2 separate regions of the Homo sapiens genome follow, and region 1 is linked to region 2. A link means that fine-mapping ties the variant in region 2 to the expression of a gene that starts in the linked region. Tissue or cell type: whole blood. Region 2 holds a variant in brackets; the other region holds the start of a gene. All regions are shown on one strand. Distances are from middle to middle.

The links. PIP is the estimated chance that this variant, and not a neighbour inherited with it, causes the effect.
Region 1: NNT starts here. The variant in region 2 is fine-mapped to the expression of NNT in whole blood (TOPMed, PIP above 0.99). The same link has a PIP of 0.9 or more in T cells, fibroblasts, lung, lymphoblastoid cells, macrophages and monocytes.

What each region holds. Positions count from the first base shown.
Region 1 is chr5:43,602,211-43,604,710 of GRCh38, forward strand. It overlaps NNT (nicotinamide nucleotide transhydrogenase), which reads left to right and starts at 970. Exons shown (of 22, transcript NM_182977.3): 1 at 970-1,084. NNT-AS1 (NNT antisense RNA 1) reads right to left here and starts at 1,020. Exons shown (of 3, transcript NR_073113.1): 1 at 568-1,020. RefSeq lists silencers at 318-537, 801-890, 1,011-1,230.
Region 2 is chr5:43,823,102-43,825,859 of GRCh38, forward strand. No RefSeq gene overlaps it. Among named protein-coding and RNA genes, the nearest start is that of NNT-AS1, 220 kb to the left of the region's middle. The variant A/G (reference allele first, on the strand shown) is at 1,474.

The DNA.
Region 1 (2,500 bases), 220 kb before region 2:
TGCTTATACCTTTTAGATTCATAATTATTTTTCTTGTATCAAAATTTCAATTAATAGAAATAAATGACGTTACTGACACTTCATGATGATTAAGTTTTGGGCAAGTGAACCATTTTACACTCTATTTTTTATTCCTCCCACTTTTAGTCAGAATACACCTGCAGAATAAGTAACAGAACTGTGTGAAAAGAACGACTAGGTCATTACGGTTAATAGTTTTAGAAAAACAGCCGAGGCCTGGTCTGGAAAGCTCACAACCTCCACCCAGATGCTTTCCAGCCTCGGGGATATTCGTACTAGCAGTGACACTAGCCAGCTTCCTCTAGGCTGGCTCTGATGTTGGAAGACAAGCACGCAGATGTGTGTTACTTTTCAAGCCTGGACATCGTTTCTGAGGAATTTAACTCCACCTCTCCTGCCAGAATGGAAAATCAACGCCCCCCATTCCCGCCCTTCACCAACCCCTCTCCGCCTGCCCCTTTCCCTTGGGTCCTCTCTGTTACAGAAGTTCTGATTTTTCCTAGCGAGCTGGAGGAAAGGCAGGTACCCGGAGTGGAGTTATATTACCTGTTTCTTTGTTCTGATGGGACCCCAGAGAGGACATCACGCTTTGTAACTGGTTCTTCAAGGGGAGAAGCAAATGTGTCCCTGAAAACTTCAGCTGCCGCGTTTGGCACCAGGTTTGATTGACAAGGACTGGCGGAGGGAAAGCGCGGAGGCTGGGCTGGGGGCCGCAGGCCGAGGCAGAGACAAAGAGGTTTCGCCTGTCCCCGAGAGTGGAAGGGCCCCTGGGGGTAACTAGCCTTTGAGCTCAAAGGGGCATTTCGTGAGGTCGCCTTTTGGTTCGGAGAGCGCGCGGCGATCGGGTGGAGGGGGCCTGGCGGGAAGAAAGCTGGGGCGGGGAAGGGGCGCGGGCCGAGGTGGGAGCGGAGCTGCAGTCACGTGGCCGCCCGCCGCCGCGGAGTTGGGGCTGTTCTTCCGGGTTGGAGGCGCAGCGCCGCGGGGCCCAAGCCCGGGTCTGCCAGCGCGACGTCCTCTCGCGGCCCTCAGGGCACAGCCCAAGGCTGTCAGCCTCCCGGCCCAGGTGAGCGCGACGGCACTGGCGGGTGCGGGCAGCCGGGGCGCGCGCCTAGGGCGCAGCTGGGAAAGGGGCTCGGGCCTTTCCTGAAGACCACGGCCCTCGCCGGGAGAGAGACCTGTCAAAGAGCAAAGCGGGGCGGGGTCGGCGGTGTCCCGGGCGCAGGGTGCATTGGGGTGTCCGCAGGCCGCAGGCTTAGGTGGGGAAGAAGCACCGTGCCTCTTGGTGTCCCTTTCTCGTCTCCTGCTGGGGCGATGTCGAAGGGAGTGGGCTGGTGGATTTGGGAACTGGGTCCCCGAAGAGGGCAGGGAATGAGGCGGCAGCTGTGCAGGTGCAGATATTTGCAGCTTTGGGGGACAGCGAGAGTCGTACGGGGTCATTTCGGCCCTCAAGATCGGGGGTGGTGGAGAGGGAGGTCATAGAGGACTTTCGATGGGCGGTTCATCCAGAGAGGTGGCAGCTGGATGCCCTTGAGGTATGCTTGACCCTTGAGGGAGTTCGGAGAGGGTGTCCGGCTGGGGACATAGGAGATTGCGAGCACAAATTGTGAGTGTGAGTTGGGGCGGTCTGGCGGTGGTGGGTACAAGTTTCTGGGGCCTAGGCTGGTGAGGAGGAAGAGACAGCGGAGAGGGCGACCTGGGCAGAGCTAGTTCAAACTCAACAGCCGGAATGACTATTTGCAGCCGTGGCCAATCGGCTTCCTAGGGAGGTTATAAATAGCGGTCTCGTGCAGATGCCAGCGGGTGGCAGTTAGTTGCCGAGCAAGGGACGGCACCGGTGGCAGTAGCCGTGACACCAGTGGCTTTGGGTGAGGTCACGGCGCCTGCCAGCCGAAGCTGGCTCAGTAGGGTATTGTGTCCTTGCTGGTATGTCTCGCTTTTAAAAGCGTGACTTGTTTATGGTTGCCGGTGTCCTTTATTCACCCTGTGGCGCCGGCCAGTCCTTAGGTGGTCTGTTTGTCAGGAGTCTTGTAGGACAGACTTATTCGGAGAAGCGCGTGGGGCTTAGGTGCCTACCTACTCTTCTTATTTAAAGTGTGCCCCTTTTCTTCATTGCACCCCTTTTATTTGTAAACCTTGACTTTTTATTAACAGACAGTTTAGGATTGCCTTCTTTCCAGCAGGTGCGCTTAGGCTGCTTACCTTGGTGATAGAATCAGTTTTCCACAAGGCTACACAAACATTTCCTTTTCAAAGGAAATTTTCCGAAAATCCTTGGAAAATGTGCTCAATAGGTACTTAGGCTTAAGGTCACCTAGCCCTATTCATTCAGTCAAAAATACTGACTTCCTCTGTGTTGTGCAAAGCACTGGGGGAGAGTAATACCAAAGTGAATATAACAGCTGATAAGGATATTCTCAGTCCTGGCAACAACCCTGAGAGGTAGGTGCTGTTATTTTATTTTTTCAAGTCTCGCTCTGTT
Region 2 (2,758 bases):
GTTTCGATTTGCATTTCTCTGATGATTAGTGATGTGGAACATTTTTTTCATATACCTGTTGGCCATTTGTATGTATTATTTTGAGAAATGTCTATTCATATCATTAGCCCACTTTTTAATGGGATTTCTTTTTAAATGGAGGAGTTGTTTGAATTTCTTGTATATGCTGGATATTAATCCCTTTTCAGATGAATAGTTTGCAAATATTTTTCTCTCATTCTGTAAGTTGTATCTTCACTCTGTTGATAGTTTCTTTTGCTGTGCAGAAGCTTTTTAGTTTAATATAATCCTATTTGCCTATTTGTTGTGGTTGTCTGTGCTTTTGAGGTCTTAGCCATGAAATCTTTGCCTAGACTGATGTTTTGTTTTTTCTCTTTATTTTTTTTTCTAGCAGTTTTATTGTTTCAGGTCTTACATTTAAGTCTTTAATCCATCTTCAGATGATTTTTGTGTATGGGGAGACATAGGTGTTCAGTCTATTCTTATGCATATCGTGAATTTCAAATTTTCCCAAAACTATTTATTGAAGAATTTCCTTTCCCCAGTGTATGTTCTTGGCACCTTTATTGAAAATCAGTTGGCTATAAATAAGTGAATTTAATTCTGGTGTCATTATTCCGTTTCACTGGTCTATGTGTCTGTTTTTATATCCTTAACAATCCTGTTATTATAGCTTTCTAATACATTTTGAAGTGAGATAGATGATGCCTTCAGCTGTGGTCTTTTTGCTCAGAATGGTTTTGGCTATTCTGGCTCTTTTTCTTTCTTTCTTTCTTTTTTTTTTTTTTTTTTTTTTAGTATTTATTGATCGTTCTTGGGTGTTTCTCGGAGAGGGGGATTTGGCAGGGTCATAGGACAACAGTGGAGGGAAGCTCAGCAGATAAACATGTGAACAAAGGTCTCTGGTTTTCCTAGGCAGAGGGCCCTGCCGCCTTCCACAGTGTTTGTGTCCCTGGGTACTTGAGATTAGGGAGTGGTGATGACTCTTAACGAGTATGCTGCCTTCAAGCGTCTGTTTAACAAAGCACATCTTGCACTGCCCTTAATCCATTTAACCCTTAGTGGACACAGCACATGTTTCAGAGAGCATGGGGTTGGGGGTAAGGTTATAGATTAACAGCATCCCAAGGCAGAAGAATTTTTCTTAGTACAGAACAAAATGGAGTCTCCTATGTCTACTTCTTTCTACACAGACACAGTAACAATCTAATCTCTCTTTCTTTTCCCCACATTTCCCCCCTTTCTATTCGACAAAACCACCATTGTCATCATGTTCTCAATGAGCTATTGGGTACACCTCCCAGATGGGGTGGCGGCCGGGCAGAGGGGCTCCTCACTTCCCAGATGGGGCAGCCGGGCAGAGGCAACCCCTCACCTCCCAGAGGGGGTGGCTGGCTGGGCGGGGGCTGCCCCCCACTTCCCGGACAGGGCGGCTGGCCGGGCGGGGGCTGCCCCCCACCTCCCAGATGGGGC[A/G]GCTGCTGGGCAGAGATGCTCCTCATTTCCCAGATGGGGCGGCTGCTGGGCAGAGGGGCTCCTCACTTCCCAGATGGGGTGGCTGGTCAGAGACGCTCCTCACCTCCCAGACGGGGTGGTGGCAGGGCAGAGACACTCCTCAGTTCCCAGACAGGGTCACGGCCGGGCAGAGGCACTCTTCACATCTCAGATGGGGCGGCAGGCCAGAGGTGCTCCCCACATCCCAGACGATGGGCGGCCGGGCAGAGACGCTCCTCACTTCCTAGATGGGATGACGGCCGGGAAGAGGCACTCCTCACTTCCCAGACTGGGCAGCCGGGCGGAGGGGTTCCTCACATCCCAGACGATGAGCGGCCAGGCAGAGACGCTCCTCACTTCCTAGATGGGGTGGCGGCCGGGCAGAGGCTGCAATCTCGGCACTTTGGGAGGCCAAGGCAGGCGGCTGGGAGGTGGAGGTTGTAGCGAGCCGAGATCACACCACTGCACTCCAGCCTGGGCAACATTGAGCACTGAGTGAGCGAGACTCCGTCTGCAATCCCAGCACCTCGGGAGGCCAAGGCTGTCAGATCACTTGCAGTCAGGAGCTGGAGACCAGCCTGGCCAGCACAGCAAAACCCTGTCTCCACCAAAAAAAAGAAAACCAGTCAGGTGTGGCGGTGTGCCCCTGCAATCCCAGGCACTTGGCAGGCTGAGGCAAGAGAATCAGGCAGGGAGGTTGCAGTGAGTCGAGATGGCAGCAGTACAGTCCAGCCTCGGCTGGGCATCAGAGGGAGACCGTGCAAAGGGTAGGGGGAGGGGGAGGGGGAGGGAGAGGGAGAGGGAGAGGGAGAGGGACTATTCTGGCCCTTTTTTGGTTCCATATGAATGAATTTTTTTTTTCTGATTCTGTGAAAAATGACATTTATATTTTTGATAGAGGTGGCATTGAACATGTAGATTACTTTCAGCACTATGGTCATTTTAATGATATTCTTCTAATTCCTGAACATGGGATGTCTTCCAATTTGTTTGTATCTTCCTAAGTTTCTTTACTTAGTGTTTCATAGATTTCCTTGTAGAGATCTTTCATCTCCTTGGTTAAATTTATTCCTAAGTATTTTATTTTTTGTAGTTATTGTAAATAGGATTGCTTTCTTAGTTTCTTTCTCAATAAGTTCATTATTGGTGTATAGAAGCACTACTGATTATTCTTTATTGATTTTGTATCCTACAACTTTAATGAACTTATTTATCAAATCTAGCAGTTTTTTTGTTGGAGTCTTAAGATTTTTCTAGATAAGATCAT